Regions from separate parts of the Homo sapiens genome. Here region 1 is linked to region 2. The links come from fine-mapping of genetic effects on gene expression. A gene starts in region 2. The other region holds a variant in brackets. All regions are shown on one strand. Distances are between the middles of the regions.

Region 1 (16,705 bases), 50 kb after region 2:
TCTGCCTCCTGGGTTCACGCCATTCGCCTGCCTCAGCCTCCCAAGTAGCTGGGACTACAGGCGCCCGCCACCACGCCCGGCTGATTTTTTTTTATATCTTTAGTAGAGACGGGGTTTCACCGTGTTATCCAGGATGGTCTCGATCTCCTGACCTCGTGATCTGCCAGCCTCGGCCTCCCAAATCACGCTGAGATTACAGGCGTGAGCCACGGCGCCCGGCCTCAGCTTCTTAAAAACAATCGGGTTAGAGTGAGCTTTTCACTTGGCACCACGTCACCAGCCGCATCCGGCCACCGACTCTTCTCCCACAAATGTGGACGTGCCATTGTGCGGCCGCCCTGGAGTTGGACATCGAGGATGCTCTAGATTTTTCAACATTATAAACGGCACCATGAAGGCGACTTTTCCTGTAATACTCGAGTCTTTGTTCCTCATCCCTGATGATCTCCTTAGAATGAATGACTAACAGGTGTGACAGCTAAGATTCTGGGTGCGTCTACCCAAAATTATCATCTGGGGAGGTCAGAGACGGCTCCACCCCCTGCCACAGATGGGGAGACCTTCCAGCTTTGCTCCTGTGGTCACGGCTGCTCAGGAGCAGAACTTACCCCGGACCCAGGCTCAGAAAACACCATCAAATCACAAAGACCCTGTCTCTCCAGCCAAGACCCATTTGGTCCCGTCTCTTTGAAAGCTGGGCTGGTGGGAAGGAATCCCTGGTGAACCTGCAGAAAAACATCTCACTGGGAAAGGGCGGCAGCCCCCAGCCTCAGTGGCTCCTCTAAGCCATTTTGAAAGGGGTTCCGGAGACCCAGCCAAGTGATCCCAGCCCTCCTCCCTCCTCTCTGCAGCCCCCTCTTTCCTCCCTCTCTGCAACCTCCCCTCCTCTCTGCAACCCGCTCCTCCCCTCCTTTCAGTAGCCCCATCTTTCCCTCCTCTCTGCAGCCCCCTCCTCCCTTCCTCTCTGCAGCCCCCTCCTCCCCTGCTCCTGGTGGGCACTGCCCACTGCAGTGCTGGTTCCTGCCCAGGAGCTTGTGAGGAAACTCTTTCTGCCTTCTCCGCCCACCCCAAGCCTGAGCGGTTTGCTGAATCTTCAGTCTCTGCTGTAGGGACCCAGGTCCCTGGGATCATGGCAGAATTTAAATATGCTGTTAATTTTATCTTTCATACTTAAAGGTAGAGACATACACAGTCCACACAGAGAATAGACACTTCTTTATATGTGCTTTTTTACCTACTGTACAAGCAAAGTATGTTTGTTAAAATTTTCTTTTAATATGTTGCATATGCAAAGTGGTTTTCCAAACGCTTTCACTAAACTGTTCAATGTCAACTCCTCAATGCCCTTAGGAGGAGCGTGTGTCAGAAGTTCCTGCCATTTAACAGGAAACAGTGACCCAGAAAAGCTTTGGCATCCCTGCCAACCCCGAATTAACAGCAGAGACAGCCCAGAAGCCACAGCTCCTGGCTCCTAATCTCTTTTTCTCCCTACCAGACTTTTGGGGCCCCTGAAAAGGTGGGATTGCCCCATGATAAATGTTCTATAGAGTCATCTTGGAGAAAAATGATGATGAAGTAGGTGATGATTCCTTTTTCTCTGCAGCCGGAAGAGCAGCAAGACCTGCAGTGACGTCATGTCTGTGGACGCCCAAACCCTGAAGAAGAAGATGGGCAAGCTGGCCTGTGACCCGGCCGCCCACTCCATCCTCAGCAGCCTGCTGCTCTACGTCACGGGCCGCGCAGACCGGCCCCCGGGGACAGAGGCCGGGGGGAGCAGGCCCAGCCACCAGCCCCAGACCCAGGAGGCCACCCAGCGGCCCACGCGCTTCCAGCTCCTGCAGGCCAAGTTCCTGGGCACTGGCCGGGAGCGCTACCTCAAGAGGACCAGGGAGGTGGGCCGGCTGATCTCCAAGGACAAGCAGGGGCCGGGTGGGGGCCTCGTGGGTGCCACCATCAACAAGCTCCTGGAGAAGACCAAGGAGCCGGCCCCAAAGCCCTGCCTCAGCGAGAAGCCCCGCTGGGGCCACCCGGCCGGGAAGAGCACCGTGAAAAACATCCTGAAGATATTCTTGGCCGCCGAGGAGAAGGAGGCGAAGGAGAAAGAAGCACGCGAGAAGCCCCCTGTGGAGCGGCCCAAAGCCGCCAGGGGCCTCTTGCCGAAGATCATGGGCAAGAGCTCGGTGCTGTCCAAGCTGCGGGAGAAGTTCGAGCAGAACAGCTGCCTGTGCTCCGAGGCCAGTGCGCTGAGGCTGCACACGCAGGAGCGGAAGAAGAGGAACCTGCAGAGGAAGAGGATGCACCGGCCGGAGGTGCGCGTGCTGCACACGGCCACCATGGCCAGCACCTGCGTCAAGATGCCCCCTGCCCGCTTTCTGGCCTGCACGGCTGAGCCCCTGCCGGCCCTCAGCATCGCCACCGTCGTCTGTGGCCCCAGGAGCTGGCTGTCCCACTGCACCAAAATCAGCCACTCGGAGGCAAGGCGTCCACCCAGAGGAGAAGCCAGCGTGCCCCCTAGTGCCAGGGAGACGGGGCCCAGTGGGAACAAAGCAGTGGGAAAGGGGCCCCTGGAGGAGGAGCCCCAAAGACAGCCAAGGCCCTCGAAGCCCGTGACACCCCAGGTGATGGCTCAGAGGGACGGCCACGCTGTCCCCTCGCTGGCCTTCTCTTGTGCTCCCTGCACAGGTGGAGTCCTTCCTGGCCTTGTGCCTGCATCATCCCCACTGGGACCGGCCAGCCCTTGGGGCACCGGATCAGCCGGAGGTGATGGGACTGCAGACCCCACCGCAGAGAGCACCGCAGGAGGCGTCCAGGAGGTGAGGGGAGCCAGGCTCACGTGGCCTCCTGGGCCCCCAGGCGAGTGTGCAGGGGAGGGCCCTGAAATCACCATGACTGTTTGCAGTTCAGAGGATGAAAGGGAAGGAGCAGGCTTCCCAGACCCAGGGAGAGACCCCCTCTTTGCCACCCAGAAGTATTTCCCAGAACAGAAGGTGCCGGAGCACATCCCACCCCTGAACGCTCCATCGGTCCAGGCTGCTCGGAGAACACAGCCTGCCACGGAGCCTCCACGGATAACTGTCCAAATTCCAGTTGTCCATGAAATGCCAGCCCCTCCCACCAGGCTGCAAAATATGTCAAGTGGTGAAAACAAACCTTGTATTTGTGGAGGAGAGAATGTGGTTGAAAATGCCCACACAGAATTTCCCACCGTGACTGAGAACAGAAGGGGTCACCGAGCCCCAGTGGAACTGAGCAAGCTTTCAGGGATGCAGGCGGGACTCAGCGCCTCTTCGCCGCAGGGGCCACGGGCAGCTCCGCGTCTGGCAGCAGCAAGAGGGGCTGTGGGCGCCGACCACAGTGTCCCAGAGACACTTCTGACACAGAGACTCCAGACAGATCCTGCTGGCGGGAAGGAAAACAAAGGCAGCTTTGAGAATTCACACGGTCCCAGGAATCCTGACGATATTTCAGGAGAGAGGACCTCTGAGCTCAGAGATGTGAAGCATCCGTTGCCGGAATCTAATGAAATATCAATGCAGAAGAAGGGCTCCGCAACAAATGATCCTGCAGCCTCACAAAACCTTCTGAGGGGAAACACCAGCCATGCCTCCAGCAGCCAGCAAGTGCCGTCCCCGACTGGGAGAAACCCAACAGGAGCCCCCACGTCACTGGCGGCATCATCCAAGGGGCGTACGGGGCCTGAGGGTGTCACCCCGATGGGCATGACAGTGCCCGGTGCGCTGGAGGAATGCAGAAGGCCGCTGCTAATAGAGTCTTCTCAGCCCCTGAAGGCTGCCGAGGAAATCACCAGCCATGATGTTCGCGAGAACCCACTGTCCTCATTAAATGAACCACCCAAACCAGGTATGAAAGCCTGTGGGGCGATGGCAGCTGCAGGGAGCGTTGCGAGCCGCGCCACGCCTGCACCAGCGCCAGGCAGCACCCAGAGCCCTGGAGACCGCACAGCGGGAGAGCCAGAGACGCTGGGCCAGTGGGGAAGCAGAGCCTTGTCCGAAAGCCACCCCAGAGGAGAGGCTCTCCCTCGAGACCCTCACAGCCACGGCCTCCTGGCCCCTGGGGGATCCTTGGAGCCCAAGAGTGGAGCAGCAGGGAGGAGCCTCCTGAGAGGCGTGGCCCTCGTCCAGCACCCAGAGGACATTGCGACCCTCGCCCGCCACCCGGAGGATGCTGCGGCCCTCGCCCGGCACCCAGAGGCGGCCCGATTATACATTTCAAACACATCAGCAGCCAGCAGACATACAGCAGCTGTAGGAGGCAGAAAGGATGTGGCTGTGGAAGGAAACCTTTTGGGTTTCAGCACAGAGTCTGGAATTCCTGCTTCTGATCATCCTAGGCCACAGGCAAGGAGCGTGGCAGAGTCCCCCAGCTATGGCCCTGGCCTCCCGCCGTCGCCTCCTGAGAACCCACAGGCAAAGGGCAGGGAGGGCGTCAGGTTTCCCCGTGGGGCGGAGCCTGACCATCTGCTTCCCGCAGTGCCTCCCGCGGAGGTGGACATGGGGTGGGTAGGTGGCACCCACCAGCGGGGCCCTCCCCATCTACAGGCACACCTGCCCCCTACTGCTGGTGACACACAGGCAAAGCTCCGGGCCAGTGTCCCCGAGCCTAGGACGCAGGCAGGTGAATCCCAGGAGCGTCCCCTGACACAGGCGGACCTGGGGAGGCAACAGAGTCACCAGGCACAGGAGGAGACCCCCCAGCCCGGGGATGCGGGGAAGAGGGTGGCGCCGTCGGGCTCGAAGGTTGTGCTGAACCCAGCAAAAGAGCCTCAGACATGGTGGGCACAGGATCTGGCCGGGGACAAAGGGATGGCCATTGGGGTTGGGGGCGCCTGCCAGCGCAGTGACCAAGGTCAGCAGCATCTGCAGGGACCCTGGGAGGAGCGGGGGCGGAGCACGGCGTGGGGAGAGGGCACCAGGGCTGCCAGGAACCCAGCTGTGCCTCCAGGGGAGCCCGAGGGGCCGGGAAGCCCGGCAGCCCAAGGACAGGCCCAGAAACAGGTTCAGGAATGGGACCGGGGACAGGTTCAGGGACACGCTCAAGAACAGGCCCAGTGGCAGACCCAGATAGAGGCCCAGGGGCAGGCACAGGAACAGGCTCAGGGTGGGACCCAGGGACACAGTCAGGGACAGGCCCAGAAACAGTTTCAGAATTGGGCCCAGGGACAGGCTCAGGGACACGCTCAAGAACAGGCCCAGTGGCAGACCCAGATAGAGGCCCAGGGGCAGGCACAGGAACCAGCTCAGGGTGGGGCCCAGGGACAGGTTCAGGGACAGGCCCAGAAATGGGCTCAGGGGCAGATTCAGGGACAGGCCCAGAAACAGGTTCAAGGAGAGGTTCAGAAATGGGCCCAGGAAGAGGCTCAGGGACAGGCCCAGTGGCAGACCCAGATAAAGGCCCAGAAATGGGCTCAGGAACAGACCCAGAAAGGGGCTCAGGAACGGGTTCAGGGTCAGGCCCAGAAAGGGGCTCAGGAACGGGCCCAGGAACAGGCTCAGGAGCAGACCCAGATAGAGGCTCAGGGTCAGGCCCAGAAGGGGGCTCAGGAACGGGCTCGGGAACAGGCCCAGAAAGGGGCTCAGGAACGGGCTCGGGAACAGGCCCAGAAAGGGGCTCAGGAACGGGCTCGGGAACAGGCCCAGAAAGGGGCTCAGGAGCGGGCTCGGGAACAGGCCCAGAAAGGGGCTCAGGAACGGGCTCGGGAACAGGCCCAGAAAGGGGCTCAGGAACGGGCTCGGGAACAGGCCCAGAAAGGGGCTCAGGAACGGGCTCAGGAACAGGGTCGGGAGCAGACCCACATAGAGGCTCAGGGTCAGGCCCAGAAAGGGGCTCAGGAATGGGCTCGGGATCGGGCTCGGGATCAGGGCTGGGAGCAGACCCAGATAGAGACTCAGAGGCAGACCCAGAAAGGGGCTCAGGAACGGGCTTGGGAACAGGGTCGGGAACAGGCCTTGACAAGTGGGATGGCGCCTCGGGCCTGGGAGCAGCCCATTAGTGGCATAGCTGAGGGAGTGGATGCTGCTGGCAGGAGTGGGGGGTCCAGAAGCCCAGCCCCCAGGGATGGTGGACAGTCAGGGGGCAGTGGCCTGGGGGAGCCCAGCGCCGGGTACCCACCCCCAGGAAGCCGCCCCCTCAGGGGCAAGAGCATTGCCACCTCTCCCCTGGGGCTGGGAAAGAGCCCAACTGAGCCCAAGCCTGAGGCTGGGGGCTGCGGGACTCCCCAGGCCCCGGCCCAGGAGGGGTCCCCAGACCACCCTGGGGCTGAGAGGGCCCTGCAGGACAGGATGGAGGCATCGGAGCCCGAGCGTCGCGGGAGGTCCAGGCACCTGGCCAAGTACAAAGCCCAGAGCTTCCGTGACCAGAGGGCCTTCGATTTGTCCTTCAGACCAATGAGCGTCAGGGCCAGCGACACGTCTGAGCTCCCAAAGTGAGGCCCCGAGTACACACCGTGGCTCGCCCAGCACTGTGACATCCGCCCATTGAGGGACTTCAGGCATTTTCCTGCCTCCAAATGCGTCTTGGAGCATCCCCTACAGAGACGCCTGTTTCCATAATTTTCTTTCCCTTCTTCACAAGCTGACCTTGGGAGGATTGAGCTACATGTGGGTCGGGTTCCTGTCACCCCACAGAGCCACGAGGCCATGGGGGTGGGAGGTGCGGGCCTGTGGCCTCACCAGGCCCTCGGGATTCTTTGTGTCTTCACTCGGGGGCGCCGGCTCACCCCTCTCTCACACAGCCTGCAGCGTGGAGCTCACACCTCCCGCAGTGGCACGGTGTGTGCGTCCCCTTCGATCTGCAGGATGCTGGCACTTTGGGACACCTCCCCAGCTCTCACAGGGCCACCTCCCACTGCTCCCTGCCCACACCCCACCATGCCCTGCTCTGACGTGGCCGCATGGCACCCACCATCCATGGGCCCAAAGTGATGCACACCGCCCCACCCCCATGACTCGAAAGAAAGGGCAGAGCTTCCTCCAGCCTCAGACGCCCAGGTGGGTGCCGGGTGCTGTGTGGCTGCTGGGCCATGTGGTGGTCACCAGAGGGTGTGGGGACGCTGGGATCCCAGGCCGAAACCAGCTCATCCGGAGGAAGAGGCCTCAGGAAATGCCCACGTTAAGTTCTGAGAAAGGGACAGTGCAGAGCCGTGGGAAGCCAGGATCCCAGGGAGGCTTCGTCTGGAAACTGGGTGCTGGGAGAACGAACGGGAGCCTGCCCGCCCTTCCCTGCAGTCCCTGTGGGTGGTGCCACTGGTGCCGGTGACCTGAGAGCCTCGCTGTCTGTCCTCCGTCCTCCCGAACAGCATAGAAGTGTTTCCTGCCCTGGCCCGAGACGGCCCACGACTCCGGCCCTGTTCAGGTACTGAGGTAATGCATGTTCAGGCTGGAATATTTGAATGCTGTCTAGAGGCACAAGAAGGAAATCAAAGCCACCTGTGGTCACATTGCCTCGAGATGGTTTTTGTTGCTACTCTGGACTATTTTTTAGGCTCTTCCTCCATGCACCTATTTTAAAGCACATTCTTCCCCATGATGGAGCCATGCACCTCCGTGTCGCGATCCATCGTCCCAGGCCACTCGGTGGCCTCTGAAACCCGGACCCGTGAGGCCACACGGCTGCCTGAGTGGCCCCGGAGCAGCTGGATTTTCAGCGTGAACCGATGCAGCCTGTCGCCCTACAGCCCCGCACCCTTGTTTTTGGTGGTGCCCTCCCTGTGGAAAGTTAATTCCTGCTTTTTGAAGGTGTCTTGGCATCTTCTGCCTTTGCTACTGAGCGGTTTCCTGAAACAGCCCTAAGCGTTCGCAAAGGCGCTTTGGTGCCTGCTGCGAGCACCTGTTTTCTGACTCGGATGTTCCTTTAGAGGAAGGTGTTTTCCAGTGTCGGCCCTGAGAGGGCGTTCAGCAGGCGCGTCCTACCCACGCGGGGCTGAGGTCTCTCCTTCCAGGGAAGGTCCATCCCGGCAGACGCCAGTGGCTTTGGCTCTGCAGCGCCAAGGAGGCGGCGTGGCGTCATGCTCCGGGGAGCGCACAGGTTTCCTTCCAGTCGAACAATTAACTTCAGATCCAGCAGGTTTGACCCACCCTCACCTGCTGGGACATGCGAGTGCTGGTGTCTGGAAGGAGGGCCGGGCTGTGCTGAGCTCTGGGGGGCCGGTCCCCACAGCTCCCCCGACAGGGCCCCCGGGGCCTCCTCTATAAATCAGGGGTCCGTGCTCCCAGCC[C/T]GCTTCGAGGGGTTTCTGCTTGGCGTGTGGGTTCTAAGTGCGAGCTGCTGTGTGTGGAGGCTCCTGAGCACCGGGTGCCCCTCGCGCGTGTGGGTCCCGGGGCAGCCCAGCTGCACACAGGATGGTCCGGGGGTGCGGGTGGGGGCAGAGCTGAGCATGGCGTGTACTTGGCCACAGAAGTCTTGCTGTGGTGCCGCTGGACCCCTGCTAGGAGGACAGGGTCCCCTCTCTCACGAAGCACACGGACCTCCAGAGTCCCTGCCCCTGCAGTCCTGGGAGCCTGCAGTTGGGGCTGGAGTTGGCCTCTCGGAGCCACCCAAACGGAGAGGCCCATGAGAGGGGAGCTCAGGGGTCCAGCAGAGGCTGACAGAGTGGCCTCTTTGTCCTGTTGGCGGCCCCTGCTCATGCCTGGGGCGTCCTCCCTGGAGCTGGGGGAGCTCAGGGACCCCCAGGTCTGTGTGGCTGCCCCTGCCACTCCAGGCACAGCGGCACGGCCCTCACTCTTTACCTATTTGGAATTGGAGGCAATGAGTGGCAAGAACATGATGACAGACACGGGAGGTAAAAATATGTTCACTGGCTGTTCCCTTTATAAATAAGAAGTGGTGGGACTTGCGCTGCTATTTTTAAATAGACCAGAGAGTACACTGGAGAAGGCATTGAGTGGTTTTATTTTAAGTGGTGGAAAAAATGATGAGAATCTCCTCCAGATGACAGCTCCGGAAGTGTCGTGCCTGAACCCCTCTCACAGTCTGGCGGGCGCAGAGTCTGTGAGCGGCCAGGAGGCCACCTGCTCGACTGGCCCGTCCTCTCCATGTGCCAGATGCAGCCCAGCATGACACTGCCCTCAGCTCAAAAACAGCACAGCTACTCTGTGTGCAGGAAAAAACTGCCAGTGACTTCACCAGGATTTGAGAACGGTCCGTACGTTCACACTAAGCTGAGACAGCGCAGGTTAGAAGATAGCGCGGGGAAGTATTCACACTTCAGATACGACCATCACGGCCACATGGCTAAGGCCCACACCCTCCCGGGGTGAAATAACTACAGCAGAAGAATGGGGCGCTAACCACCTCCACGGGCATTTTAAATAAAACCCAAAGTTGTTTTGTTTTTTTAAAAAAAAAAAAAAAGAAAGAAAGAAAGTGGCCGGGCACGGTGGCTCATGCCTGTAATCCCAGCACTTTGGGAGGCCGAGGCAGACAGATCACGAGGTCAGGAGATCAAGACCATCCTGGCTAACACAGTGAAACCCTGTCTCTACTAAAAATACAAAAATTAGCCGGGCGTGGTGGTGGGTGCCTGTAGTCCCAGCTACTCGGGAGCCTGAGACAGGAGAATGGCGTGAACCCGGGAGGTGGAGCTTGCAGTGAGCCGAGATTGCGCCACTGCACTCCAGCCTGGGTGACAGAGCGAGACTCCGTCAAAAAAAAAAAAAAAAAGAAGAAAAGAAAAGAAAAGAAAACAGGATATTTATTTTAGCTTCTTAGTTAACATCATTAATTTTGTGTAGTTGAGCGACTCGTTGACTGCCTCCTCCCTGCAGTTTTTTACGGTGCCTCCGGCTGTCGACAGGCCCACTGTGAGCCGCAGGTCTGTGGGTGCAAGTGACAACAGCCGGGCGGGAGGCGGTGCACTCAGGCGGCAGGAAGGTCCCGAGACGGCGACGAGAATGTGGTCATGTTCAGGACACTCGCTCAGGGAGGGTCGTTGTCTGGGATTTTACACGCTCAGCACCACCTCCTTATTCTGTTCTCAGGGTATCTCTGCTGTTGGAGTTACGGTCTTTCGGTTGTGTATTAGGCTACAGCTATTTATTAAATTTGTTCTTGTTCATATTCTTCTTTGTATATAAACAACCCTAAAATGGGTTAGTCAGAAAAAATTACTAAATGTCATTTGTTGTATTCTCTCTGTATTTTTACTAACATCATTCAGCTGGAAATAATTTCAAAAAGAAATAAAATACCTTTCCCATTACAAATCTCTTCCTTGCATTGTTGAAGCAGCCGCATAAATGAAGTAGGACTCAGGCCTGGGGCGAGGGGCAGAGCCCCCATCGGGTGAATGTGGCCAGCCTGGAGCAGTGATCCTGGGCAGGAGGGAGGGTCTGGGGCAAGGCCCCAAGTGGGAGGAGAACTCCTTAGGATGTGCTTAGAGAGACAAGGCCATGCACTCCCCAGACCCTCTCTTGGTCCAGTCAAGACTGTGCCGGCCTCGGAGCAAGACCCAGGGAGCTGGACTTCGGCCACTGCACCTGGGCCGCGGGGGGCCAAAGGGCTGGGGTGTCCTCTGGGACACGGAGGGAGACTGGACAGAAGGGAGGGAAGGAGTATGGGTGCAACGGGCCCAGCAGGCCTGTGAGACACCCTCTGCCCTCCACTACTCTGTATGCAGGAGAACTTTGTAAGTGACTTTTCATGAGGATTTAACAACGGGTGGTTTAAGCTCACGCCAGACCTAGCTGGGAATGCCTGCATTCCAAACCCCTGCTGTGCCCGTGGGTGGCGCGGGTTCTTGGCATCTTGTGAGGAGGAAAGCTTGTTCCACTGAAACGAGCTGATGCCTCGTGTCTGAGAGCACTGGCCCGGCAGCCGAGGCTTTGGGATGGTGCAGGCACCTCTTGTCCTGAAAGAAAACCCCTGTCAATTAAGCTATGACACAGGCTTTCATTAGAACTTTTATTTTATTTTATTTCATTTATTTATTTTGAGACGGAGTCTCGCTCTGCCACCCAGGCTGGAGTGCAGTGGCGTGATCTCGGCTCACTGCAAGCTCTGCCTCCCGGGTTCACGCCACTGTCCTGCCTCAGCCTCCTCAGTAGCTGGGACTACAGGCGCCCGCCAAGACGCCCGGCTAATTTTTTGTATTTTTAGTAGAGACAGGGTTTCACCACGTTATCCAGGATGGTCTCGATCTCCTGACCTCGTGATCCGCCTGCCTCGGCCTCCCAAAGTGCTGGGATTACAGGCGTGAGCCTCTGCGACCGGCTAGAACTTTTAAAAGCACTTATTGAGGGCGTCTGTGAGACTGGTGTACATAGAAGTCTGATCAAACCCCATTCTTGGGATATTGTTATAAGCTTGGGGTAGACAAATGTTTCCCTGAACAGAAGAAAAAGCCCCAACCACAAAAGGAAGTGCCGGGACATTTGTCTGTTTGAGCGTCGGTGCATTTGCTGAATCTTTATGGCCGCCATGGATTTTTGACAGGAATGGATGTCACGTAGCCCCCAAAGCCCAGGACTGAGCAGCTGAGCAGTGCACGCCGTTTCTCTGACAGCGAGAGGACTGGCCTGGCTCAGGTCCACAACCCCAGGCGGTGTCTGGGAAGCCACTCGAAGGCACAGGAGCCTACTAGAAGCCCCATCTGTGCACACCCCAAACTCGTGAAAGTGCCGAGGCATCTTCTCCTAGAAGAACAAAGGAGGCCAAGCGGGGAGTGAAGGCAACAGTGTCTACAGTGGTCCGTTTCCAAGACAAAGTGCCTTGAATCGGCTTAAGTCAGCAAACTACAGAAGAAACAGGAGGTCCGAGGCCCCTGCCTGGATCGCCAGTGCCTGCTTGCCGGCCTCCCCTTCTCCCTCCCTTCCCCCCGGCCCTTAGGTGCTCTCACCTGAACTAAAGAAGTTTAGTCTAAGATAACAGTTTACTAGCCTGCAAAATAGCTGGCTTTGTCTGTTCTTATCAGCCTGCCCAGCTACTTAGGTCATAAGTCAAATACTTGAAGAGCCCCTGGGCTGACTGGGATTGCAATGCATTGTGGGCTGCAACAAAATGCAACAGGACACCCCTAAAAAAAACACCTACAGCCCCTGCCCAACAACCAATAGGTGACGTCCCAGAAGACTGTGACCCCAGAGTACTCAGCCTGTGAGGAACCCGGGGAGACACCTGTGCACTAGGGGATAAATTATTTGTTGAAACTGTGCTGGCTGTGGCTGCCCATCAGACACCCGATCTTGCAAGACCATCATCAACAGTCTCACTTTCAGCCAGGTGCAGTGGCTCATGCCTGTAATCCCAGCACTTTGGGAGGCTGAGGCAGGCAGATCACAAGGTCAGGAGTTCAAGACCAGCCTGACCAACATGGTGAAACCCCGTCTCTACTAAAAATAAAAAAATTAACTGAGTGTGGTGGTGTGCACCTGTAATCCCAGCTACTCAGGAGGCTGAGGCAGGAGAACTGCTTGGACCCGGGAAGCAGAGGTTGCAGTGAGCCGAGATTACGCCACTGCACTCCAGCCGGGTGACAGAGCGAGACTCTGTCTCAAAAAAAAAAAAGAAAGAAAGAAAGTCTCCCTTTCACTCTCCTCCGGGTCTCCGAGTCCTTCTTCTGGGTTTGGACAGATGAGTTTGTTTCTCACCACTTGAGACCAGGAGTTCCAGACCAGCCTGGGCAACATAGTGAGACCCCGTCTCTATTTAAAAATGAAAGTAAAATAAAAAATAAAAGAACAAAAGACCACAGGTCATGTTGTATTGAAGAGCGGAGAAAGAGCTGTTGAATTCTCTGGATGGCTGTTTCCTTACGGCCTGTACCACTGGAAGTCATGTCTTAATCCCCAACTGGAAGAAGGCGCTCAACCCACCAGCAAATCTGCACGTAGGGAAGAATTTTCCAAATCTTGAAGAAATAAGAACCCAAAAAAAGCACCAAATAAGTTACAGATTTCCATTGCTCAATCAATAATGATGATGATAAAATAATCAAGAAGCCGGGTGCGGTGGCAGCACCTGTGGTCCCAGCTACTCAGGAGGCTGAGGTGGGGGGATCACGTAAGCCTCGGAGTTTGAGGCCAGCCTAGAAACATAGCAAGATCTTGTATCTTAAAAAAAAATGAATAAAATGTTAAAAAATAAAACAAAATAAGAAACTGATGAAATTCTTGGACTTTGATAACGGCAGGAAGCCGCACACATACAGGAAGAACAAAGTCCAGAAAGAGCTGACGGTGGACGCCCAAGAGAAGAGGCGGCTTCTGCGAGCTCTGTGTCGTTAGGAAGGGAACTCGGCTTCATTTCAAATTCCAAAGGGGCTCAAACATATGAATAAGACCCCAGTCTTTCATGGGAGCCCCAAAAGTGGGGCTATTTTTCTACGTTTTGACAGCTCCCCACAACATGAATCCTGTCTTCTCTCTGCACGGCAGTCCCACATCCCACATCCCCAGCCTTCCTTGCTGCTGGGACGCATGCAGCTCTGCCAGGGAGACGCAACCTCCCCAGGCCGGCAGGGCACAGCAGGTTCTGGGCCCACGGTGAGGACGAGCCGGTGATATGGAGTCTCCTGGGTGTGCAGAGAAAGATGTTTCCAGGGAAGCTGAGAGAAGGAAGCTCATTAGCCAGTGCAGAGCTGGGCTTGGAGGCCTTTCCTCTAGTCCTGCAAGGAGCTGGGAGCTGTCACACTGCTCACCATGTCCCTTTCTGCTCAAATTCCCCAGGATGGATTCTGCCCCCTGCACTCAAGAAAACACAGGGGGCCGGGCGCGGTGGCTCACGCCTGTTATCCCAGCACTTTGGGAGGCCAAGAAAGGCGGATCACGAGGTCAGGAGATAGAGACCATCCTGGCTAACACGGTGAAACCCCGTCTCTACTAAAAATACAAAAAAATTAGCCGGGCGTGGTGGTGGGTGCCTGTGGTTCCGGCTACTCGGGAGGCTGAGGCAGGAGAATGGCGTGAACCTGGTAGGCGGAGCTTGCAGTGAGCCGAGATTGTGCCACTGCACTCCAGCCTGGACGACAGAGCAAGACTCCGTCTCAAAAAAAAAAAAAAAAAAAAAAAAAGAACACACAGGGGCGCCCCCATCAAAACCCACAGCAGACGTGCTGTATCGGACCACATACTGGAGCACACGGGGCTGTCCCCATCAACATCCACGGTGGACGTGCCGTATCGGACCACATACTGCGTGCGTGGTGGTCAAAGACATGAAGTTGAACTCTCATGGGTCTATCAAGTTGAGAACCAAAACCCCCAATTTTTAAAAGGAATCGGTAACACTCACTACCTCTGAGGATGTACGGAGACAGTCATTCCTGATGGGACCAAACATTGGCCCTTCCTTTTTATAAAGCAATTTGGCAATAATGTCAAGAACCTTTAGAAGGGGTGGCTCCTCAGCCCAGCAATTCCAGCTTTGAGAAACTGTATTTAGGAAAAGCAATCTGTCCAGCGTGGTACTACTCAAGATACAGCCATAAGTGACACAAATGTCCACCAATTAAGAGATTAGTTGGCCAGGCGCGGTGGCTCACGCCTGTAATCCCAGCACTTTGGGAGGCCGAGGCGGGCGGATCACGAAGTCAGGAGTTCAAGACCAGCCTGGCCAACACAGTGAAACCCCGTGTCTACTAAAAATACAAAAAATTAGCTGGGCGTGGTGGCGGGCACCTGTAATCCCAGCTACTAGGGAGGCTGAGGCAGGAGAATCGCTTGAACCCAGGAGGCGGAGGTTGCGGTGAGACGAGATCACACCATTGCACTCCAGCCTGGGCAACATTGCAAGACTCCCTCTCAAAAAAAAAAAAGAGATTAGTTAAATAAAGTGTGGTGTCTTATTCAGTGAAATAGCAGTCATTTAAAATTAGCTGAGGAAGAACTTTGTGAAATGGAAAATATTGTACCATTTAATGTTTAAAATCCAATATAAGGCCGGGCGCAGTGGCTCATGCCTGTAATCCCAGCACTTTGGGAGGCCAAGGAGGGTGGATCACCTGAGGTCAGGAGTTCGAGATCAGCCCGGCCAACATGGGGAAACCCCATCTCTACTAAAAATACAGAAATTAGCTGGACATGGTGGCGGCGGACGCCTGTAATCCCAGCTACTCAGGAGGCTGAGGCAGGAGAATCGCTTGAACCCAGGAGGCAGAGGTTACAGTGAGCCGAGATGGCGCCATTGCACTCCAGCCTGGGCAACAAGAGTGAAGCTACACCTCAAAAAGAAAAAAAAAATCCAGTATAAAATAGTAGATTCAAATATGTAAATACGTGTGAAGGGGGCAAAGAAAGAGAAACGCGAAAAAAGGTGAGCAGTGGTTATCCACGAACACCCGATGTGTAGGTGTGTTTTCCCGTCGTTATCTGTCACTGCTTTCTGCGTTAATTTAAATGCACTTGCATCACTTTCAGGATCAGAAAATAAAGGCCTATGTGTGACCCTGGGGCGCTGGCGGGGGCTGGACGGAGGCCCAATGCCCCTGTTGCCCATTGTCTCCAGGCTTCTCCAGGACTCGGCTTCCCGCCTCTCCTTTGGGGACCGCACGAGTCACTGGGGGAGGCTCCGCGGGCAGCAGGTCTCTGGGAGGGGTTGTCGCCCCCTCGGTGCGCAGGGGAGCGACGGGTCCCTCCTGCACCTGCAGGGACAGGCCTCGGGCTGCACCGTCCCGCGCCCGCCTACCCCGCGCCCGCCTCGCCGGACGCCTCCTGCCTGAGTCCGCCAGGGGGCGCTGCCGGCCTCCCGGGCGGCGGCTGCTGCAAGAGGAAGCCCCGGCCCGCGAGCTGCTGCCACATCCGGACGCCGCCGGGAGCCGCCGGGAGCCGCCGGGGTGGGCGGGAGTCGGGGCGGCGCGCAGGTTCCCGGCCCCCTAAGGGACGGTTGCCTTCCCCAGAGCCGGGGACACAGGCGTACGTGCGGGGACCTCGGCGCTGGCCTCCGGGCTTCTGGAGCCCCTCCCTGGTGCGGAGCGGGGACGGTGACCTCCTCGTGGATTCTGGGAGGGGCAGCCTTGGCATCAGGACCTGGAAGCCGGAGAGGCTGCAGGGCTTCCAGCCATGGCCTTGCCACCGGAGGTCACGTAGTGTTTCCACATTTCCTTAGTGTGTACATGTGTGGGTCCCTGTGTTGTGGAGGGCTGTGTCTGCTTGGTGTGTGTGCACACGCGTGTGTGCATGGGTGGGTCCCTGTGTTGTGTAGGGGCCGTGTCTGCTTGGTGTGTGTGCACACGCGTGTGTGCATGGGTGGGTCCCTGTGTTGTGGAGGGCTGTGTCTGGGCAGGCTGTGTACACACCCATGTGCATGTGTGATGCGCACTGGGGCACTTGTCTGGGTAGTAGAGGTGGAGGCCTGTGTGGCCATATGTGCAACTGTGTGTCCGGGTGCGTGTACCACAGTCTTCCCTAAAATAGTAATACTGGGACCTACGTCATGGGGCTGTTGTGACCGCGTGTGGCACTCCATGTGGGGTGGCACAGCCAGGCGCTGATCCGGCCACTTTGCCAGTCGGACTGACTGCGTGTCCTCTCCTTAGGGGTGAGAAGCTTCCTGGCATCGGGCCTGGGCTCCTGAGCCCCTGAGCCAACCGACTGATGGTCCCTGGGAGACAGCCCCCGCCCTGCTCCTGCCCCCCACACCTGAAAGGCTCATTGTGTGGGTTTGCTGTGCTCCACAGGGATGTAAACCGCCCCTCCTTTTCCCTGTTCTGTCTGTGAGAAGGTGCCAGGGATACTTTTTTTTTTTTTTGAGACCAAGC
Region 2 (12,117 bases):
AAAAAGACATTTTTCCATGAAAAACATTTATTTTATGAGTGATGAATTATAGATTTTAAAATCAAGGCCGGGCGTGGTGGCTCACACCTGTAATCCCAGCATTTTGGGAGGCCGAGGCAGGTGGATCACCTGAGGTCAGGAGTTTGAGACCAGCCTGGCCAACATGGTGAAACCCTGTCTCTACTAAAAATACAAAAATTAGCCGGGCATGGTGGCACATGCCTGTAATCCCAGCTACTCAGGAGGCTGAGGCAGGAGATTCGCTTGAACTCAGGAGACGGAGGTTACAGTGAGTCGAGATCGCGCCACTGCACTCCAGCCTGGACGACAGAGTGAGATTCTGTCTCAAAATAAATACATACATACATACAATAAAACCGAATGAGCTGGTTCTTTCCATCCTCTTGTGGTACCCGTAGTGCCCAGCATCCAGACCTTTGTGCCCCTGTGCACATTTGGAAGCTAAAATGTACATCGTTGTCTGAAAAAACCCAACCCCAAAACCTTCATCTGATTGGTGAGCTGAAGTCTGTCCTTGCACCATGTTATCATCTGTTTCTCGTGTCCGCCTGGTTGAGGAGGACCCACGAGTGCTGCCGAGGTGTGGAGGGCTGGTATTGAGTTGTGGACATCACTGTTGACCCTACCTCACGTGCCGAGACTCTCATGTCACAGGCGTGCCTTGCTGCCCCCCTGCAGCACTGTGCAGGACGTGGACCAGCTGGAGCTGCTGCCCAGCACAGAGGAGAGTCGCCGCAGATGACCTAGCTGCGGTGTGAGAGAGCATGGCCCAGACAAGCAGCTGGGTTGGCTTCTGAGAACAGGACTTACCCTGGGCTTCAGGAACATCTGATGGCTGAGGTTAGTGTGCTTGGAGGCTGCAGGACGAACTGTCGATGTTTCTTAGCAGAGATGGTCACAGAGGGCAGCAGGGACAGGACTGGAAGGGACCTGCAGCCTGCAGACCCCGCCTGGCCCCCGCTGGCTTCTGGCTGGTCCAGTGATGGGCAAGTGACAGACCTTCCCCAGGCTCTGCTTCCAGAACTCTAATGGGAAACTGGGCCTGTCTACCTTTAGAAGTCTTCGATTCTCAGAGAGCATTTGTCTAATACAATAAAAACTGGCATTAATACAAACCTCAAAAACGTGAGCGTATCTTCCAGGCTTCATGGATTCTTGACATGTAATTGTTTTGTTCAGAAAAGTTTATAGAATTCACATAATTCTGTATAAACTATGGAGATCCACAGTACTTTTTTGTTTTTGAGATTTAAAGTTCTAAGGGATTGTCAATAGATATCAAAATATTAATCATTGGACAAAGGCTTTTCCAAAAATTGTGGGTTTTTTTCTTCTGTTGTATCCATTTGAGTCCTGCATGCTGTGAAATGCTGAGAACAGAAGCATTAAATTGGTTTTTCTCGGGCGTGGTTTCCTTTCGATTCTCCTCAGCTGCAGGGATGTCTGCCTATAGGTGTCAGCATCCACGTCATTGTCCCAGGATGAGAGAACAGCCCCCAGCTAGCAACCAGCGGGCAAGCCCCTGCCCCCGTGTGTGGCCCGCCAGCCCTGGCCAGGTAACCAGGTCCTCAGGTACCTTCTGTCATTGCGTTGCCTCTCAGCGGTGCACCGTGCACCTGATGGGGTGGCTCATGTGAGGAATGAGAGATCTCACAATAGGCAGGATTTACGGGAGTGTGTCGGGGCAGGAGGTCATGTGTGCCAGCACAAACTGCTGGAAACCGTCCCTTATCGGAGGCAAACGGCCAAGCACGGGGGTCTGAGGATCATGTGCTACCTGCCGATTCACGGTGCACCTGCCAGCGTTCCGGAATCAACAACGCCAGCTCCTCTCAGTGACATTGTACATGTCATTGTGTTATTTTCGCTTGAAGTTTATATCCATTTTAGACCTCAGGCTTCTTGGGGCCAAGAATAAACTTTCTTCTGATCCTTGTTGCTGTGTCCACAGTTTCAGGTACAAAGTAGGGGCTCTGCAAATATTTGTTGGATAAACGAGCTAACCTTATCCCGTCCTGTTTGCTGAGGGAGCCAGCTAGTGCTCTTGGCAAAGGTTTCCGCCGCCTGCGAACTGAAGCGCTCAGCGAGCGGGCTGTGTTAATCCCCTCAGCAGCACACGCTTCGGCCCCACAGTGCAGTTGTGCCTAAAACAGGTGAGAGTTTGAACGAAGGGCCGCCCCTCCTGTCTGTCTTGTTTGGATAGGGACCCTGCGTGCATGCTGTTTTTTGTTTTGGAGTTTTGTTTGTTTGTTTGTTTGTTTCTGAGACAGAGTTTTGCTCTTGTTGCCCAGGCTGGAGTGCAATGGCGTGATCTCGGCTCACTGCAACCTCTGCCTCCTAGGTTCAAGTGATCCTCCTATCTCAGCCTCCCAAGTAGCTGGGATTACAGGTGCCCACCACCATGCCCGGCTAATTTTTGTATTTTTAGTAGAGACGGGGTTTCATCATATTGGTCAGGCTGGCCTCAAAATCCTGAGCTCAGGGGATCCGCCCGCCTCGGCCTCCCAAAGTGCTGGGATTACAGCCATGAGCCACCGCGCCCGGCCTGCATGCTGGTTTTGAAGTTTGTTTCTGAATCTCAGGATCATGCTAGCTGGCATGACTGTGCTGATGGCTGCCTCCACCAGCAGACAGTGGAGGGTGAGGTGAACTCACTGCTTGAGATCCTCCGTTTTAACAAGTGCTGATATAACGCCAGGCGGTTAAATGCTTCCTACTGTCTCGCTGTACACTACGAGAGTTTTTATCAGACGCATTTCTTCAGTCCAGGTGTAACTCTTTGCTTCCCCTGGGTCTGATGGAAACCAGGCCCCGAGGAAGGAGACGGGAGAGACACAGCCCTGCTGGGCTCCCGGCCTCTGCGGAGAACTGTCCTGGGGTGGGGTCGGGAGATGGACTGTTTTCCTAATTTATTTCAAACCAGGAACCCTGGCTGTGTGCATTCTGCCTCACCCCCCGTCTCCATATTTTTTAATATTCTTTTCATGAGCTAGCAGGGATGATGTAAATACACTGAGCTGACCGAGGGCCGGATGGGAGGTTCTAGTGAAGCCTGCGGTTTGCTGACGACTTTCCCCCTCAGTGCAGTCCAATTATTTGGGAGCCGTTAAACACCGCATGCTGAGAAGACACCGTCATTGTTCACACAGGAGCTAGATAGACTTTGTTCCCTCTACACTGCATTTTTTAAAAGTTTTCTATCAAAAACACATTTCATAATCGAAAAGTTTTCTAAATGATAAAACCGCATGTCACAGATTAATCTCAACATTATGTTGAGTGAAGGAAGCCAGACACCGAAGGCCACACATTGTATTTGAAATGTCCAGGAAAGGCAGAACTGTAGAGACAGCAGATGGGTTGTTGCCCGAGGGGTGAGGGCACGCCCCGCAGCGGGCGGCAGTGACAGGCACGCCTGCACACATCTGCTCCCGCATCACCCCACGCCACACACGGGGAAGTGTGCGCACTCCTTCCAGGGACAGCGAGAGGAGCCCCTGCTCTGTCAACGCTCTGAATGTGCTGCGGCTGCCGGCAGAAGCTAGCAGGCTCCTCTGCTGAGGAGCTGGTGCCTGTCCAGACGCAGAAGAAAACTGACACCTCCCACGTGGGGGACAGAAAGGTCCTCTCATTGGTGCCACCTGCAGAGATAGACAAGGAGCGCCTGGCCATCAGAGGACGCTCCTGACAGTGACACAGTGACCACTATAAAAGTCAGGCGGGCTGAGGAGGAGACAAAGGCCAGGACGCTCCGCAGCTGTTGGGGAAGAGGAGCTGCCTCCTGGGATGGAGAAATTTAAGGCTGCGATGTTGCTGGGGAGCGTCGGCGATGCTCTTGGCTACAGAAATGTCTGCAAGGAGAACAGCACTGTAGGCATGAAGATCCAGGAGGAGCTGCAACGTTCCGGGGGCCTGGACCACCTCGTACTCTCGCCAGGAGAATGGCCCGTGAGTGACAACACCATCATGCACATCGCAACCGCCGAGGCCCTCACCACAGGTAGGCTGGGCCCACCGCGCTCCGGTGTGCGGGCTGGAGGGAACACTGGCTGCTCGAGTTCTCCCAGTAAGCCTCCGAGAGCTTTGAAGGCAGTGCGGTCCTTCAGCGGATGGTGTTACCTGATACCGCTGCTAAAAGTGGCAATTTAATCTGAGTGTCCCTCAAATTTGATATGCGGCAGATCACGTTTCTCCTGTGGTTTCTCTGAGGGTGACAGTATTACTTTACTTTGCAGTTATTAAGATTCAGTTTTTAAACGTGACTTTTCACTTGTATTTGTAAAGCGTTAACTAGGCCTAGCACCTTCTGTTTCTAATAGAGTTAAAGCCAGTGAAGCCTCTCTCGGCCGTGCTGGTGGGAGTAGGGTGAGGGCTCACTTCTCGCTGCAGAGATTAAGCCTTCTTGTTCTGAATTCATTACAAAGGGATGTAAAATAAGCCAGTTTGAAATGTGAACCCATTAATACTGTTTGGGGATTAGTTCTAAATTCCAATGAATTAAAGTTAGAATATCATCTCCCAAAATGGTTCAGCTTGGAGAGTTGCCCATACACAAATGTGTTCTAAGAAAATGACATAAACTTGATTGGACGAGATTGGAGACAAAGCTTCTTAAAATACCTTTAAGTAGCAAATTGATTTTAGGATCAAGCTTTTGCATGAATTTCAGGGAAATGGCAGGTGCACAGACATGCAGTCCAGCTTTCCTACGAGGCATTTGCTCTTCAAAACCCCGTGGGTGCTGTTTATCATGGCAGAATTAAAATCTGAGGGCTGCAGCTAAGTCAATGAAATCTCACTTATGCGTTCACTCCACCATTCTGTTCATCTGCCATGGACGTGCCCAGTTTAGTTCTGTGCTCACAGCAGAGGAATGCCATCGAGCCTGTGGCCGGTCCCTAAATAACGGGAGAGCTGAAGCGCCGGCGATAAGATAAGGCTCCCGGCTTGCTGGAGACGGGGAGGCGTCCGACTGTTCACAGCCTTGGCGTCCAGGAGCTCCTGCTTCTGGTTTTCCAGGCGGCCACTCGTGTGCCCTTAGGACCAGCAACCCCATGCTTGTGCCCCGCAGCCCAGAACAGGTGCACCCCACACACAGACACCTGTGGGACACAGCTCCGGCTTGTTTTCACCGTAGACGGCTGGAGCTCACTCTTGAGTTTGGCTTCCTCTGGGCGTCTGATGCCGTGTGTGCGCTCATACCAGCTCTGCATGTCCCATTTCTGGTAGCACTTGGTGGGCGTTTTGTAAATGGCAGCGTCCATGGCTGTGGGTCTGGTCCTGCCAGGCCCGCAGGGAGGGCAGCGGCACAGGACACTCCAAAAGTGCACCGACGGAGATCGGCCCAACAGGACACGAAATTCACACAGTTAAAAGGGTTACGGACGTTTAGGGCACTGTTTTTTGTTTGTTTTTTGAGACGGAGTCTTTCTCCATCGCCCAGGCTGGAGTGCAGTGGCGTGATCTCAGCTCACTGCAACCTCCACCTCCCAGGTTCAAGTGATTCTCCTGCCTCAGCCTCCTGAGTAGCTGGGGCTACAGGTGCCCACCACCACGCCCGGCTGATTTTTGTATTTTTAGTAGAGACGGGGTTTCACCACGTTGTCCAGGCTGGTCTCGAACTCCTGACCTCAAGTGATCCACCCACCTCAGCTTCCCAAAGTGCTGGGATGACAGGCGTGAGCCACCATGGGGCGCTATTCTTAAGGAGGAAGTAAGTTTGCTCTAAGCTCTCAGGGTCCTCAGCTGTGGACTGGAAGGGAGGGTTCACTGTGCTGCTGCAGCGTCTAGTTTGTGGGTCATGAGAAAATACGCATCCAAGATCACCCCTGGAATTGCTTACTGTGGGCGGCAAGCCACCCAGGCACTGAGGCAAGAGACAGAGGACACGAGCTGTTCCAGTATAATAAAACAAGAATAGTTATACCAGATATAGATCTTAGATATGATTATATATGAATATCATTAATCATTAGTTTGTAGCAATTACTTTTTATTCCAATATTATGATAATCCTCGCTCTATAATCATAGCCTAGGAAAAACCAGGCCATACAGAGATAGGAGCTGAGGGGACATAGTGAGGTGTGACCAGAAGACAAGAGTGCGAGCCTTCTGTTATGCCCGGACAGGGCCACCAGATGGCTCCTTGGTCTAGCTGTGACGCCAGCGTCTGGGAAGACGCCCGTTACCAGGCGGATCGTGGTCCAGCAGTAGCAAAAGGTGGCAAGGAACAACACCTGCTACTTAGCAGACCAGGAAGGGGGGGGGGGTCTCCCTTTCCCCAGGGGAGTTTAGAGAAGACTGCTCTTCCACCTCTTGTGGAGGGCCTGACATGAGTCAGGCTCGCCCGCAGTTATCCGGAGGCCTAACCGTCTCCCTGTGATGCTGTGCTTCAGTGGTCACACTCCTAGTCTGCCTTCATGTTCCATCCTGTACACCTGGCTCTGCCTTCTAGATAGCAGTAGTAAATTAGTGAAAAATTAGTACTATCAGTACTAATAGTCCCTGATATGCAGAAATAATGGCATAAGCTGTCTTTCTCTCTGTCTCCTCTCCCTCTCTGCCTCGGCTGCCAGGCAGGGAAGGGCCCCCTGTCCAGTGGACACGTGACCCACATGACCTTACCTACCATTGGAGGTGACTCGCATTCTTTACCCTGCCCCTTCTGCCTTGTATCCAATAAATAACAGTGCAGCCAGACATTCGGGGCCACTACCGGTCTCCGTGCATTGGTAGTAGTGGTCCCCCGGGCCCAGCTGCCTTTTCTCTTATCTCTTGTCTTGTGTCTTTATTTCTACACTCTCTCGTCACTGCACACAGGGAGAGACCCACCGACCCTGTGGGGCTGGTCCCTACAGCTTACCCCTCTAGAAACCAAAGCAAGCAGATTTTTTTCAACTCACTAAAAATCAAAGTCGAAATTTCACTTAAGTTTATCTTTGTTCTTTAAATAACAAATTGTAGCCTATGGAAGGGGGTCTTTAAGCTGTGTTAACAATGGTGAGGGCTGGGCACAGTGGCTCACGTCTGCAATCCCAGCATTGTGGGAGGCCACGGTGGGCAGATTGCCTGAGCCCAGGAGTTCTAGATCAGCCTAGGAAACATAGCAAGACTCCATCTCTACAAAACGACAATGGTGAGTGCTGACTCCACAGCACTTCTGTACCAGGCATTGTTCCAGCTGCTTCACGCATGTTATCCTCCACACATGCTCCTCACATCACCGTGGAGGCTGATTTTATCACAATCTTACAGGAGAAAAAATTGACATACAGAGAGGTTCAGGCGCTTGCCCAGTGCCACACAGCCCAGCGAGTGGCAGAGCTTGGACGGGAACCAGAGAATCTGGCCCCTGTGCTCGTAAGCATCCTCCCTGACTGCTGAGATCACGGTGGCCTGCAGGTATCCTAACAATTGCAGTGTGCAGGGGCTCTTCAGCATGCTTTCCAAAGACAGGCAGACTTTTACAAATGGAACTACGTTTGGCAGCTTTAAGTAAGCTGCACTGAAAAGTCCTTCACCCCACGAGCCACGGGGCTGTGTGGTCTGGCAAACCCTGGCTCTGCTGCTAGAGTGAGCACAGGTCTGAGGGTCGGGGCAGCCTGTGTGGCTCCCTCCTTCCGGGTGAGCCTCTCTGAACCGGGCTGCCTCCTTCCGGGTGTGTCTCTCTGAACGGGGCTCCCTCCTTCCGGGTGAGCCTCTGAACAGGGCTGTCTCCTTCTGGGTGAGCCTCTCTGAACCGGGCTGCCTCCTTCCGGGTGTGTCTCTCTGAACGGGGCTCACTCCTTCCAGGTGTGTCTCTCTGAACAGGGCTGCCTCCTTCCGGGTGAGCCTCTCTGAACAGGGTCCCTCCTTCCGGGTGTGTCTCTCTGAACAGGGCTCCCTCCTTCCGGGTGAGCCTCTCTGACCGGGGCTCACTCCTTCCGGGTGTGTCTCTCTGAACAGGGTCCCTCCTTCCCGGTGAGCCTCTCTGACTGGGGCTGCCTCCTTCCGGGTGAGCCTCTCTGACTGGGGCTGCCTCCTTCCGGGTGAGCCTCTCTGACTGGGGCTGCCTCCTTCCGGGTGAGCCTCTCTGAACAGGGCACGAGAGCAGACTCTGAACCAGGAAGTAGCCGTGTCTAGCGCTCTACAAGACACATAGGAGAGGTGGCATCCATGGCCCTGAAACGACAAGCCCATGTTGCCAGCGCATTATCACCAAGTCACTTGGCAAGCGTTTAGCAGGTGTGTGTGTGTGCCAGGCCTGGGGAGGGGCGGCCTCGCACAGAGAGCTCGGCCATTGCTCGGGTATGCAGCTGGCCATTCCCAGCTCCCTACCCCCACTCCCTGGGAAAACTGGGGAAGTGGCTTCCCTCCCAGGGCCTTCCTCCCTCACAAGGTCACAGAGGATTAAACGGAGCAACCAGCAAAGTGTGAGGAAGCACTTAGGCCAGTGTGGGAAGTTGGTGCAGGCCCGTGTGGCCGAAGGCACATCTGACATGTCTCTGCCCTGAGGCTCACTCAGCCAACTTCAGGGCCCAGCAGGATGGCGGGAGGTGTCACCTGGCCACAGCCTCCAGGGCACAGGGCCAGCACCTTCTCAGCCTCTCCCGGGGCCCTGATAACTGGGAGTGGCACTTCAGCTCATGGCAGAAAACGTTTGGAAACAGTTGACATTTTGCTACAAGATCACTGGATGTTAGTATTTTGCCTTTTCTTTATTGAGACATGGGTTGGGAGACTCAGGCACCATTTTTTTTTTTTTTTTTTTTTTTTTTGGGACATAGTCTCACTCTTTTGCCCGGGCTGGAGTACAGTGGCGCGATCTCGGCTCACTGCAACCTCCACCTCCTGAGTTCAAGCGATTCTCCTGCCTCAGCCTCCTGAGAGGCTGGGCTAACTTTGTATTTTTAGTAGAGACGGGGGTTTCACTATGTTGCCCAGGCTGGTCTCGAACTCCTGACCTTATGATCTGCCCATCCCAGCCTCCCAAAGTGCTGGGATTACAGGTGTGAGCCACTGCACCCGGCCCCTCAGGCAGCTTTAGAAACTGATTTGTCTTTCAGGAGACCAGACAGGGAAGACAGGAGACAGGAGTGGAGTGTCCCAAAGGAAAGAGACCCGGGGAGAAGCCCAAGGGTAGCAGCTTTGAAAATCTGTTTCTCGCTTAAATTCTAACCTGAAAAGACAATGCTGTTTGTGCCATTTTGTTTTATGGCTTCTGTTTGCTTTGAAAAGGCTAAATTTCAGTTGAATACAGACATTTCATGTCTAATTCCAGAATAAAATGAATCCTTTTAGGGGACTCAGGAAGGGCTAGGCTTGTTAACCCAGGACTGAGTTGAGAAAGGCTGTTTGTGGATCCACTGTGCCGGTGACTGTGAGGGGCACACACTGGGTTTAGACACAGCCTGGACAAAGCCACGCAGCTGTACCCCCATCCAGGGGTTTCGGGTGCAGGCGAAGGTGACCTTAATTCCTGCAGGAATGCAGCCCTCACACCTCTCCTATGAGACTGCAGGACTCGTGTCTCCCAAACCACAGTCTTGCCACATTCTCTCTCCTCCCTGACTCAGAACTGGGGTGATGAACATGGCGTCATGTAAAACAATACTGTGCATGCACACAACACCATGTGTGCAGACAACATGTGTGTAGACACCATACACATACAATGTGCATGTAGACACCATGCACACAAAACACCGTGAGTGTAGACACCATGCACACACAACACCATGAGTGTAGACACCATGCACACACAACACCGTGCATGTAGACACCATACACACACACCACCATGAGTGTAGACACCATGCACACACAACACCGTGCATGTAGACGCCATGCACACACAACACCTTGCATGTAGACGCCATACACACACAACACCGTGAGTGTAGACGCCATGCACACACAACACCGTGCGTGTAGACGCCATGCACACACAACACCGTGCGTGTAGACGCCATGCACACACAACACCGTGCGTGTAGACGCCATGCACACACAACACCGTGCGTGTAGACGCCATGCACACACAACACCGTGCGTGTAGACGCCATGCACACACAACACCGTGAGTGTAGACGCCATGCACATACAACTTGCATGTAGACACCATGCACACACAACACCGTGACTGTAGACACCATGCACACACACCATGCATGTAGACACCATGCACACACAACACCGTGCATGTAGACACCATACACACACAACACCGTGCATGTAGACACCATGCACACACAACACCGTGCATGTAGACACCATGCACACACAACACCGTGAGTGTAGACACCATGCACATACAACTTGCATGTAGACACCATGCACACACAACACCGTGACTGTAGACACCATGCACACACACCGTGCATGTAGACACCATGCACACACAACACCGTGCATGTAGACAACACTGTGCGTGTAGACAATACTGTGCATATAGACAAAGCCATGCCTGTATGACAACACGGTGCATGTAAACACCCTGTGTTTACACAGCGCAATGCTATGCATTTATGACAATATCATACATGCAGGACAGACAATACCATGTGTGTAGACAACACCATGCACATACAACACTGCGCATGTAGACACCAGGTGTGTTGGCAACACTGTGCATGTGGATAACACTGTGCACATAAGACAACACTGTGCATGTAGACAACACCGTGAGAGTAGACAATGCTGTGAGTATAGACAACGCCGTGCCCATATGACAACACCGTGCATGTAGACAACACTGTGCACAGGCCAGCCGGCCACGCCTCCCAGGACTGCCCCTCTCTTCAGAGGCCTCTGCTGGGCCGGGTCAGGGAACTGGTGGTAGGAGGACACAACATACAGTCCTTGTCCTGAGCACTTCTCCGGGGGTTTGCAGCCACGGGAGCCCTCTCTCTCTGGGGGGTTCACAGCCATGGGGCCCTGAGTGCTCTCTCTGGGAGGTTCACAGCCACTGGGCCCTGTGCACTCTCTCTGGGGGGTTTGCAGCTGCAGGGCCCTGAGCGCTCTCTAGGGGGTTCACAGCCAAGGGGCCCTGCTTGTTTTCTCTGGAGGGTTTGCAGCTGCGGGCCCTGCGTGCTCTCTGGGGGGGAGGGGGGAGGGGGGGCCTGCAGCTGTGGGGCCCTGCGTACTCTCTCTGTGGTAGGAGGTGAGGAGGTTTGCAGCCGCCGGGCCCTGCACGCTCTCTCTGTGGGGTTTGCAGCCGCTGGGCCCCAAGCACTCTCTCTGGGGGGTGTGCAGCCTCAGGATCCTGTGCACTCTCTCCAGGGGTTTGCAGCCATGGTCCCTACACGTGCGTGCTCTCTCCAGGGGTTTGCAGCCATGGTCCCTACACGCGCGTGCTCTCTCCAGGGGTTTGCAGCCATGGGGGCCCTGTATGCTCTCGCCAGGGGTTTGCAGCTACAGAGGTTTCATGTCCTGGAGGAGGAGTGACTTTGCCAAGTGCCCTTCCTAATCTCACCAACCCATCCATGCTAGGACATCTGGCTCTGATGCGGCTGAAAAAGGCCCCAGCCACCAGCAGGAAGGTCTTTTGCTTCCAAGTGCCATTTCTGCCCCATGGAGGGTGGGCCAAGCCTCCATCTTCGCCTCCCTCTCCCCATTCATTCCCACCCCTCCCCTCCCCAAAGGTGGGGAATTCATCACCAAGGAAAAGGGAGCAGTGGCGTCTCCCGGGGCTGACCCGCAAGCCCAGAGTGCAGTTTTAGTACAAAATGAAAACAAGTTGCTGGGTGTTAAAGTGGCCGTTGGGAGGGGCGCCCTCGCCGGCCCCACCTGGTGGGCATCCGCCTGCCACAGCCTGTCCTGGCATGGCCAGGCACCAGGGCTCTGATTTTAGAGGCTGTGTGGACTCCATCCACACACTGCGGGTTACTTAATCACAGAAATGCTCGGGCTTTGCAGGCAAACACCTTTGTCAGCTCTGGCTTTGGCCAAGACACATAACCTCACTGAGCCTTATCAGGGAATATGGCAAATAAGAACTAGCCCTTGCTGTGGGAGGACGTCTGGGCCTCCCGCGTGCTGGGCATAGGGCTGGTGTCTGCTGTGTCCAGCTCCTTCACCCTCGTGCCCCAGGGTCTTTCAGGGCCTCGAGCCCACC

Alleles and levels. Alleles are on the strand shown, and positions count from the first base shown. SD is a standard deviation of normalised expression in the study named.
As copies of C replace T in region 1, the expression in monocytes after LPS of the gene that starts at base 3,757 in region 2 goes down (moderate effect, 0.59 SD a copy in Quach 2016).

The links.
Region 1: its variant is fine-mapped to the expression of ADPRHL1 in monocytes after LPS (Quach 2016, PIP 0.95).

Annotation. Positions count from the first base shown.
Region 1 is chr13:113,393,119-113,409,823 of GRCh38, reverse strand. ADPRHL1 (ADP-ribosylhydrolase like 1) reads left to right here. Exons shown (of 8, transcript NM_001394807.1): 8 at 1,604-10,213. The coding sequence ends at 6,446. Among named protein-coding and RNA genes, the nearest start is that of GRTP1, 37 kb to the right of the region's middle. RefSeq lists enhancers at 1,847-2,532, 3,650-4,444, 15,820-16,361 and silencers at 11,496-11,790, 15,433-15,542, 15,553-15,902. The variant C/T (reference allele first, on the strand shown) is at 8,234.
Region 2 is chr13:113,445,128-113,457,244 of GRCh38, reverse strand. It overlaps ADPRHL1 (ADP-ribosylhydrolase like 1), which reads left to right and starts at 3,757. Exons shown (of 8, transcript NM_001394807.1): 1 at 3,757-4,021. The coding sequence starts at 3,808. It overlaps DCUN1D2 (defective in cullin neddylation 1 domain containing 2), which reads left to right. Exons shown (of 7, transcript NM_001014283.2): 7 at 1-1,426. RefSeq lists enhancers at 297-1,227, 5,224-5,725, 7,727-8,086, 10,414-11,355 and a silencer at 11,055-11,154.